Homo sapiens: one gene and its partners. The protein of the gene in region 1 purifies or fractionates together with the protein of each later gene. This does not show direct contact. Each region holds a gene or a part of one and is shown on either strand. Other genes may lie near its edges.

Region 1 (3,754 bases):
GATCCTCGGCCTCCCAAAGTGCTGGGATTACAGGTGTGTGCCACCATCACCAGCTTAAAATGTTTTAAAACTAAAACATTTCAGTGTTACCAAATAATTGATGAAATATACAGAAAAATACTTTGGAAATAATTTTCCATACACTTTGGAAAAACAGTCAATTTCTTCTTAATAGAAAGAGACAATTCAATAAACTCTCAATAAAAAGGTACTGCTCAGGGTGGGCGCGGTGGTTCATGCCTGTAATCCCCACACATTGGGAGGCCGAGGTAGGTGGATCACCTGAGGTCAGGAGTTCAAGACCAGCCTGGCCAACATGGTGAAACCCCGTCTCTACTAAAAATACAAAAAAAAAAATTAGCTGGGTATGGTGGCAGATGCCTGTAATTCCAACTACTCGGGAGGCTGAGACAGAGAATTGATTGAACCCAGGGGGCGGAAGTTGCAGTGAGCTGAGATCGCGCCACTGCATTCCAGCCTGGGCAACAACATCAAAACTCCATCACACACACACACAAAAGGTACTGCTCAAAGTACCTAAAGGACTTAAGTATTAGCATTAAAATGTTTTATATACAATACCATCTGAACATATTTGTATTAAATTTTTCTTCTTTTATATTGTTAGGTTGTATTTTTATGATGACCTAATTAATAATCAACAGAAATACAAGATATGCAGAAACAAATACATTAGCTTTAATATGCTAAAATTTTATAACTTTAGCAGAGGGAAGATACCCACGTAAAAACAAAAAACTACTAGTTTGATTTTAGGTTCACTTGGTTACTAGAGTTGATGCATGATAGAAAACAGATGCAGTAAATATGAAGGGTATAGGTTTTTTTTTTTAAGTCTCCTTTCAAGGTTAGATAACCCTTTACTGGATGAGGCTAGTTGGCCCTTGTTTTGATCTAAAACTATGGAAATACATTATATTCAGATAATATTCAAAAACAAAGCACCACAAAATATTTCTAAAAAGACAAGAGTGCTAAAGGGGTTACCAGTAAGTTAAGTTAAACTACTGACCACTTGTACCAAAGAGCAAAGAAATTAAAAGAACACAAAAGCCAGCTTGAAGGACCTCTCACTGGACAAATCTGGGACAGTGCTAGCATCAAAATAATGATAGTAAACAGATTTTTAAATCAGTGAATAAGAAATTCTGAATCCAGGCTGGGCACGGTGGCTCATGCCTGTAATCCCAGCACTTTGAGAGGCAGAAGCTGGTGGATCATCTGAGGTCAGGAGTTTGAGACCAGCCTGGCCAACATGGTGAACCCCATCTCTACTAAAAGTACAAAAATTAGCCGGGCATGGTGGTAGGTACCTGTAGTCTCAGCTACTTGGGAGGCAGAGGCAGGAGAATCACTTGAACCCTAGAGGTGGAAGTTGCTGTGAGCTAAGATCCCACCACTGCACTCCAGCCTGGGAGACTAAGCAAGACTTCGTCTCAAAAAATAATAATAAAATAAAATAAATTTTGAATCAATTTTAATAAATGGATTGATAATTTGTTAAGGAATTGGGTATTTGTGTAGTTTTAAAGTATCTCCCTCCAAAAATTGGCCGAGCACAGTGGCTCATGCCTGTAATCCCAGCACTTTGGGAGGCCGCGGTGGGTGGCCTCTTATTAATTATGAGCCTTTTCTCTTATTAATTATAAGGAGAAAAAGTAACCTCACAGTGGAAAAGCTTGGCAGACACCACCTCATCAAGTGATCAAAGTCAACTTCATTAGTTCCTTCAAGCTGATTTCTGCATCCTTTTAACTACCTTGCTTTGAAAATAGGCCAGGTGTGGTGGCTCATGCCTGTAATCCTAGCACTATGGGAGGTGAGGCAGGCTAATTGCCTGAGCTCAGGAGATCGAGACTAGCCTGGGCAACATGGCAAAAACCCATCTCTACTAAAAATACAAAAAATAAAAAATAAAAATTAGCTGGGCGTGGTGGCACCACCTGTAACCCCAGCTATTCAGGAGGCTGAGGCACCAGGATTACTTGAACCTGGGAGGTGGAGGTTGCAGTGAGCCGAGATCATACCACTGGACTCCAGCCTGGGCAACAGAGCAAGATTCCATCTCAAAAAAAAAAAAAAAAAAAGAAAAGAAAGAAAATAATAAACACATTATATGTTAAAATAACATTTTTATGAAAAGTAACTGTTTTTCTAAATAAAATAATGTATGAAAAGAGTGGTATTGTTTTATATTTTTGCAAATCTCTTTAATATCTGACTTAACAGAAAGCAGCAAGATTCTCATATCTGCTTCATATATACCCATTGTCACACAGATATGTAGTTGGAAATGAGTCTTCTTTGATATGGCATCAAATTTCAATAAGTGGTAATTTGTTTACTTTACAGACAGGGTCTTGCTATGTCGCCCAAGCTGAAGTTCAGCGGCTATTCACAGGCACGATCATAGCAACAACCTCAAATTCCTGGGCTCAAGTGATCCTCCTGCCTCAGCCTCTCAAATAGCCGAGACTACAGGTAGGCACCATCACACCCGGCTCAACAAGTCGTAGTTTTTTTTGTTTTTGTTTTTTGTTTTTTTTTTTTTTTGAGATGGAGTCTCGCCCTGTCGCCCAGGCTGGAGTGCAGTGGCGCGATCTCGGCTCACTGCCAGCTCCGCCTCCCGGGTTCACGCCATTCTCCTGCCTCAGCCTCCTGAGTAGCTGGGACTACAGGCGCCCGCCACCACGCTCAGCTAACTTTTTTTGTATTTTTAGTAGCGACGGTGTTTCACCATCGTTAGCCAGGATGGTCTCGATTTCCTGACTCCGTGATCCGCCCGCTTCGGCCTCCCAAAGTGCTGGGATTATAGGCATGAGCCACCTTGCTCGGCCCACAAGTGGTAGTTTCTTACAAGTGGTAGTTTCTTAAAAGGTCATTGCAATATGGAATTTGAACCATATGAGTAATCACTTCATACTCTATTATGTGAAAATCCATTGGCCCATCTTGAACTTTGAATGATCTTTCACCCATGCATGATTTTATAATAGCATGCATAAATCATTTGGAAACTATTGATTCATTGAATCATGCTGGTCTTCTATATGTTGACACGGTATGCAATATTTTAAAAATCACATTTGTTAACATCTGAGTTCATTAGGAAAGTCTTTAAGAATTAAATGATGTCAAGCTCATCATGATGGCAGTGATTGCATCACTGCCCTCCAGCCTGGGTGACAGAGTGAGAACTTGTCTCAAAAAAAAGGTGGAGAGAGAAAGAGCCATCTGTCCATCTGTGATTCAACCCCTCGGAGTGCCCTGACGGAGTCTCGCACTGTCGCCTGAGCTGGAGTGCAGTGGCACCATCTCGGCTCACTGCAACCTCCGCCTCCCAGGTTCAAGTGATTCTCCTGCCTCGGCCTCTTGAATAGCTGGGATTACAGACATGTGTTTTTGCAGTAGACATAATATTCTAGAAATAGAGTAGATATTCAAGTTTTAGGTTATGTCAATTCAGTTGCATATACTTTATACACATAACATGATTAATGTTTCAATGGTCACATATCTAATTTACAAGAAATATCACTGTTTCCTTACTTATAGGGAAAAATAAGTAAATATCAGGTATTTGCAGTTATGGCAGTAGAGAATAAGCCCAAATTGCACAGAGAGACCAGTGATTGCTATTATCCGTGTCGAAGACAAAAATTAAAGGCAATCAATGGAGTGATTCCTTCCTAGTTACATTGTCTCTTATTTTCCAGAGACGTAGTATCTTGAA
Region 2 (3,754 bases), on another chromosome or scaffold:
CATAGACCAGAAGGCATGGAATCAAAATACCTAAAGTAGAAAAAATTACACGTGAATAGAAATGGATAGAAATAATATGGTGGGAAAATTTAGTATGCAATTACAAATCTAAGACAGGGCAAGTGAATAAAAAATAAACAAGAACATAGAAGATTTGAATAACATATTAAAGATTTATTTAAATGGTATTTTCATATGCTACATATGATTTTAAATGATACTTTCATAAGTATCATACTAATTTGTATGTATTTGTGTGTGTGTATATATATATGTGTATATATATATGTGTATATATATATGTGTGTGTGTGTGTATATATATATATATATATATATATATATATATTTTTTTTTTTTTTTTTTTTTTTTTTTTTGTGATGGAGTCTCTCTTTGTCGCCAAGGCTGGAGTGCAGTGGCGCAATCTCAGCTCACTGCAACCTCTGCCTCCTGGATTCAAGTGATTCTCCTGCCTCAGCCTCCCAAGTGTCTGGGATTACAGGCGTCTGCCACCACACCCGGCTAATTTTTTTGTATTTTTAGTAGAGATGAGGTTTTGCCATGTTGGCCAGGCTGATCTCGAACTCCTGATCTCAAGTGATCCACCCACCAAAATGCTGGGATTACAGGCATGAGCTACCGTGCCCGGCCAGTATCATACAAATATTTTTAATTGTTTTTACACCAGGTCACAAAAAGATCCAATACATTTTACAAAGCAGAAACAATACAGGGTATGTTCTTTCACCTCAGCACCAAAAAGAAAAAATAATCTCTAAAAATTCATAACATGTTTAAACAAACAAAAACAATATACTTGGAAATATAAACATGCTTGCCAATAAAGTTAGGGTCTTTCTTGGATAAGGAAAAAAAAAACAAAATAACAAAAATGAGAATTCCATATAATGTTATTAGAACAGCATTCTAAGTTAATTTTTGACTCGACATGATTTCATAATTTAAAAACAGAGGGAGAAAAACAAATAGAACAAACAAATAGAACAAACAAATAGAAAGACCTATGCCTAGGTCTCCAGAAGTGAGGGGAAAAAAGAATAATAAACAAACATAGCCAGGTGCTGTGTGATAAGTCACTTTGGGAGGCTGAGGCAGGCGGATCACCTGAGGTTGGGAGTTCGAGACCAGCCTGACCAACATGGAGAAACCTCATCTCTACTAAAAATACAAAACTAGCCGGCCGTGGTGGCACATGCCTGTAATCCCAGCTACTCGGGAAGCTGAGGCAGGAGAATCACTTGAACCCGGGAGGCGGAGGTTGCAGTGAGCCAAGATCGCGCTATTGCACTCCAGCCTGGGCAACAAGACCAAAACTCAGTCTCAAAAAAAAAAAGAAAAGCCTACATTACATTTCTAGCAACTCCAATAGTCTCTGACTGAATTTGCCTATTCTAGGTGTTTTATATAAGTGGAATCATACAATATTTTTTGTGTGTGTCTGGCTTATTTCACTTAACATAATATTTTCAAGCTTCATCCACATTGTAGCATGTATCAGAATTTCATTCTTTTTAAAGGGTGAACAGTGTTTCATTGTGTATATATAATAGCACATTTTGTTTATCCATTCACCTATTGATAGACACTTGGGTTGTTTTGACTTTCTGGCTATTATGAATTTTGCTGCTATAGAAATTCATGTATAAACACGTGTTTGAATATGCATTTCCAGTTCTTTTGGGCATATACCTAAGAGTGCAACTTCTGGGTCACATAGTAATTCTATAGTTAAGTTTTTCAGAAATTGCCAAATTATTTTCTATAATGGCTGCAGCATTTTACAGTCCTACCAGCAATGTACAAAAGTTCTAATTTCTCCATGCCCTTTCTAATACTTGTTATTTTATGAACAAAAAGAGGTTCTTTATATATTCTGCATGTTAAACTCTTATCAGATACATGATTTGCAAATATTTTCTCTCATTCTGTGGGTTGTATTTTTACTCTCTTGATAGTGTCCTTTTTACTTTTTTCTCCAATTATAAAATAAATGCATGCTCAATTAGAAAACTCGGGAAATATCAAAAACTTCCAAAAAATATAAAGAATCAGAAAAAGCGGCCGGATGCAGTGGCTTACACCTGTAATACCAGCACTTTGGAAGGCCAAGGTGGGTGGATCACCTGAGATCAAGAATTCGAAAACAGCCTGGCCAACGTGGCAAAACCCCCATCTGTACCCAAAATACAAAAATTAGCCTGGCGTTGCAGCGGGCGCCTGTAATCCCAGCTACTCAGGGAGGCTGAGGCATGAGAATTGCTTAAACCTGGGAGGCAGAGGTTGCAGTGAGCCGAGATCGCACCACTGCACTCCAGCCAAGGTGACAGAGCAAGACCTCTTCTCAAAAAAGAAAAAGCACCCACAATTCCAACTGAAAGTTAACTACATTCTATATTTTGTCATAATTTGTTTTCCATCACTTTTTGTATTTACATTTATTTTACATATTTAAATAAATCCGTATGTATAGTTTTGTATCCCACTTTTTTTGTTTTTTACTTAACATTGTAACCGTTTTACTATGTCACTAAAAACTAAAAATTTTTGATAGCTGTATCATATTCTACTGTATGGATATACTGTAATTTACTTAACCATTCTGTAATGTTGCATAAACTATTTGTTTACAATATTTTTCTATTAAAAAACAACTGACATTAACATCTTATGGTCTGGATTTCCCATATAAATGAATTAGAAGCAGAATTACTAGATCAAAGGACTTGCAGCATTTCCTTGGCTAAAGCACAGTCTTCTGCTCAAATGCAAACATCCCTGGGCACATATCATGTCTTCGCCATCTTAACATTCGCTAGCTACTACTACCTTGAGATATACCATTTTAATATAATTTTGGTTCAGATAACAAGATACGATGCTAAGAAGGACCACTAAGGGCTAGAGACTCAGGGTCTGTTTATTAAAGATAAAGGTAGGGAAGGGAAGATGAGAAAACAAACAGAGAAAAGTTTGACATGAAGAATAACCCTGGGTAGAGCAAGGGAACACCATATGGGCATTGAGCACCTGGGGAAGAAAAGGAAATGGGAAAGTGTGGAGACATAACAAAGATACAGTTGACCGTTCAAGCATTTTATCTATTCGTAGTCCCTGGTTATGCTCTGTAAATACTTATTGCTGGCCAGGCACGGTGGCTCATGCCTGTAATACCAGCACTTTAGGAGGCCAAGGTGGGCGGATCACCTGAGGTCAGGAGTTCGAGACCACTCTGGCTAACACGGTAAAACCCTGTCTCTACTATAAATACAAAAATTAGCCATGCGTGGTGGTTGGCGCCTGTAGTCCTAGCTACTTGGGAGGCTGAGGCAGGAGAATAGCTTGAACATGCGAGGTGGAGGCTGCAGTGAGATGAGATCACACCACTGTGCTCCAGCCTGGGGAACAGATTGAGATCCTGTCTCAAAAAATAAATAAAATAAAATAAAGTTATAAAAAAATACTTATTGCTAGCTGTGCAGATTCTTTGGCCAGTTAGGTAAGGCAGCTTGACCAGTGACGTGAGCTTTAGTCTTCCCAAGTAAATGTGAATATGAATTGCTGAATGTCATCTAAACTTTTCGTGACAGTCTTCCCACCCAGCTTGATAGTTACCACAAAATGTAAACAAAATGCTAAGAACTTTATCATTAAATTTTTGCCTACTTACACCATTCCAAAGGGACTTGCAGTCTGGAGTTAAGAACAGAAAATTCTCTTTGGAACAATTCGTTTGC
Region 3 (3,754 bases), on another chromosome or scaffold:
ACCATTTTTCTTAAAGTTATAGTTTCTGCTTGTGGGAGGTATATGATTCTATATATAACATGGAAATACAGAAATACTTTGAGAGTGAGAGAGATTACCCATAATCCCTTTCTGGTGGTGGCCTAGAAAGAAGGACTGTTAACATTGATGCATTTCTTTCTTATTTTAAAATACTATTAAATATGATTTAAAAATTGAGATCATTGTGACTATACGATGTTGTATCCTGTGTGTTTTCACTTGCCATAATAGCATTTTCTCATATCATTCATTATTCCTTGAAAACACAATTTTTAGTGTCTGCACAATTTTCTATTTACTGATGTGCATGGATTATTCAATGACACCTTCCTGTTGGACATACAGATCTCTCTTTTTTGGTCTCTTTATATCCATAATAAATCATTTTTATAGATATATTCTGTCAAATGTCACTGATGAATTCTTTTTCTTTTTCTTTTTTTCTTGAGACAGAGTCTCGTTCTGTTGCCCAGGCTGGAGTGCAGTGGCACGATCTTAGTTTACTGCAACATCTGCCTCCTGGGTTCACACCATTCTCCTGCCTCAGCCTCCCGAGTAGCTGGGACTACAGGCGCTCACCACCAAGCCTGGCTAATTTTTTTGTATTTTTAGTAGAGACGGGGTTTCACCATGTTAGCCAGGATGGTCTCGATCTCCTGACCTCCCGATCCACCCGTCTTGGCCTCCCAAAGTGCTGGAATTACAGGCATGAGCCATCATGCCTGGCCACTGATGACTTCTTTAGACTAAAATCCTAGAAGTGTACATTATTGGCTCAAGGACTTGAAAGCTTTTGTATCAGAGTTATATGTCTAGAAAATGTGCACTTCACATTCCCAGTGGGTGGGCGTGACTTGGCTTCATTAGCAAATAGCCTCTCTCTTTCTCCTAACTTCATGTGCTTCCAGTGGGTGAGATGATTTGATGACAGCTCTTAAAGGGATGAGGTGACACCCTAAAAGAAGGCTTGCCGTGATCCACAGGGAGAGGGGATTTGCACTGTTATTCTCTGTCTGCAGCCCCAAGATACAAACTATCCAAGGATGTTCTGTTCCACAAACAGCTCTGTCCGAGTGGTAACACCCCAAGGTCCCGGCCCACTCACCTTTTCTGCCAGCAGGTTACACTTGGCTGCCTCTGTGGCCTCTTTAGCAACACAGTCAGTGCCAGACACTGTAAACTCCACATAGGTAGAAGGTGGGAGGGGCTGAGAAGAGTACATGAAAATGCTCTTGAGGAAAGATGACTTACAATGAAAAGGGCAGAGAAGGAGAGCGGGAAGTAGCCTCCTTCGGGGAGCACCATTCATGCAGACCATGCGTCGGCCCAGAAGACATGTCCCTCAATGGCTTACATAGGGCAGTTGCTATGGGGTTGTGTTCTCAAGTGCTTGTGCTTTAGAGGTAGGGGTTGTGTCTTCCTTGTAGGAGGGGCAAGTATCCATCACCGGTCCTTCAGGGTGGAGGTGAGTTTGCAGATAGGAAACCGGAATCAGAAGGCCAGCATTAGACTGATAGGAGTGGGAACCCTGCCTCCCCCCAGCCCTCACTCTTGGGCTGCACTTGATACCCAAGGTTCAGGTTATTCCAAAATAGGGTGGGAAAGTGAAGAGATTAATACCTCTTCCACCTGTTTCATAGAGCAGGCTCAAATGAAAAGATTTAGATGAAAGTATGGAAGATATCACTTGAGCTTTTCTTTTTTAAAGTAGTTGGAGCATATGGACACAATAAAATATCTGTTATTTGGTGTAGTCTGGGGTGGGGATGTTCTGAGAATCACATATTCTGATTAATAGAATTGCCGTCTATACTAGCGTATTTCCAAGTATGGCCATGGCTGATATCCAGAATACATTTTCTTAAACATTTGAATTCTGTTGAATTCCAATGTGCTAAACCACCCACAGTACAATGAGATGTTTTCTCCAGTGACTCGAAAGGCATTTTAAGATCTTGCCATTATAAGCTTGTCAGCACAAGTGAGTATTAATTACGAGTCTGTGGCAGATGTTCAGCGGAGATGGGTGGTACTGGAGCCCAGCAAATTTACAGTGAGTGCTTCTGGCCGACGTGGGCAACTCTACCAGCTGACACTGAGCTTTGGTTTTAGCTGGAACGGAGGGAGTGGGGATGTACCTGCCGGCAGCTGTGGCTGCTGGACGTTACAGTGGCTCAGCATGGGGGAGGCGCTGAGGGTGTTGGGGTCCTCATGACACTCAGGAGCCTCATACCCCCTTAGGATGCTTTCTTCCCTTTCCAAACAACCCTCTCCTTGCTTTCTCATCGCTGCCCCTGCGCCTGTTCTTCCCTGCCTCCCGCTCCACCACGTACAGTACATTCCCGAAGTGCCACCGAACTGCCCAACCTGTCAAAAGAATCTCAGTCTTTACCACAAGCTGAGCCCGGGAAATTTCCTCCAGCTGAAAATTGGAGCCGTTGTTCTGAGCGTTGAAGGCGGCCAGGGCAGCTTTCGCGGCGTGCACCACCCTGGTGTCGTTCAGCGGGGCCAGCAGGGGGCAGTCTTGGCACACCTTGCGCACGTCCTCGGCTGAGTCTGCTCGGAGAGAGGAAACCAGGATGTGGGCAGCCATTCTCCCTGGCATGGCCCCAGCTCTGCTGCGTTAGCAAGGGCTAAGGCATTCCCCAGATAGCTTCAGGCACTTTCTCTGCTTCTTACTAAACCTTCAAAAGGCTTTTGCTATGCTGACATTTCTGCAGGAGCTCTTATCATCACGAGGCAATTTTCACTTCCAGTAAGAATAACTTCTTATTTTTTTGAGACAGGGTCTCACTCTGTGTCACTCAGGCTGGAGTGCAGTGGTGCGATCTCGGCCCACTGCCACCTCTGCCTCCCAGGTTCAAGCGATTCTCCTGCCTCAGCCTCCCTAGTAGCTGGGATTACAGGCGAGCACCACCACATTTTTGTATTTTTAGTAGAGATGGGGGTTTCACTATGTTGGCCAGGCTGGTCTCGAACTTCTGACTTCAGGTGATCCACCTGCCTCGGGTGGGTGGATTACAGGCGTGAGCCACCGCACCAGGCCAAGAGTAGCTTCTTAAAACACAATTTTAAAAATCCCAGAACCCAGGAAATTTGGCTTCTCCTTTTCCTCACCGACAAAGCTGCTAGAACTACTTAAGTTGAAAATTATTCAGATCCCTTCCCCACTTTCTCTACAAGGAAAAAATGAGAATAAGAATAGTCATCTGTACCTGGACTGGAATCACATTTTGCGTATACCACGGAAAACTTGCCATCTAGTTTCAACAGCTGGAAATCACAGTCTCCTTCGACAGCCTGGAGAAAGAAACCCACGTGAGGATGGCTGCCCTTCCCCTTCGCACCCCGGGCAGGCTCCCTCCAGGCACGGCTGTCAAAGGTGACCCTTGCAAAATCGCCTTTGCTGGGTAATACTGAAACATGGCACTCTCTGCTTTCAGGGATACAACGATATAGTTAAACGCTTGTAAAAATCAGCCCCAGGGCAAGTGGCATCAAATGGCAATTTTATTTATGATGATGATTATTATTATTATTATTTCGAGATAGAGATTCACTGTTGTTGCCCAGGCTGGAGTGCAATGGCAGGATCTTGGCTCACTGCAACCTCCACCTCCCGGGTTCAAGCGATTCTCCTGCCTCAGCCTCCCGAGGAGCTGGGATTTACAGGTGCCCGTCACCACGTCCAGCTAATTTTTGTATTTTTAGTAGAGATGGGGTTTCACCATAC

What was found.
Region 2: the proteins of GDPD1 (region 1) and KNG1 purify together in Homo sapiens (affinity purification with mass spectrometry; 3 studies listed by BioGRID and IntAct, with this or other methods). This does not show direct contact.
Region 3: the proteins of GDPD1 (region 1) and AHSG purify together in Homo sapiens (affinity purification with mass spectrometry; 3 studies listed by BioGRID and IntAct, with this or other methods). This does not show direct contact.

What each region holds. Positions count from the first base shown.
Region 1 is NC_000017.11:59,223,445-59,227,198, reverse strand, and holds part of GDPD1 (lysophospholipase D GDPD1), read right to left. Parts: intron 1-3,754. UniProt on the Homo sapiens protein: Hydrolyzes lysoglycerophospholipids to produce lysophosphatidic acid (LPA) and the corresponding amines. Shows a preference for 1-O-alkyl-sn-glycero-3-phosphocholine (lyso-PAF), lysophosphatidylethanolamine (lyso-PE) and lysophosphatidylcholine (lyso-PC).
Region 2 is NC_000003.12:186,727,278-186,731,031, reverse strand, and holds part of KNG1 (kininogen-1 isoform 1 precursor), read right to left. Parts: coding exon 3,688-3,754; intron 1-3,687. UniProt on the Homo sapiens protein: Kininogens are inhibitors of thiol proteases.
Region 3 is NC_000003.12:186,616,010-186,619,763, reverse strand, and holds part of AHSG (alpha-2-HS-glycoprotein isoform 2 preproprotein), read right to left. Parts: intron 3,322-3,754; coding exon 3,237-3,321; intron 2,581-3,236; coding exon of another isoform or gene 2,578-2,580; coding exon 2,414-2,577; intron 1,229-2,413; coding exon 1,127-1,228; intron 1-1,126. UniProt on the Homo sapiens protein: Promotes endocytosis, possesses opsonic properties and influences the mineral phase of bone. Shows affinity for calcium and barium ions.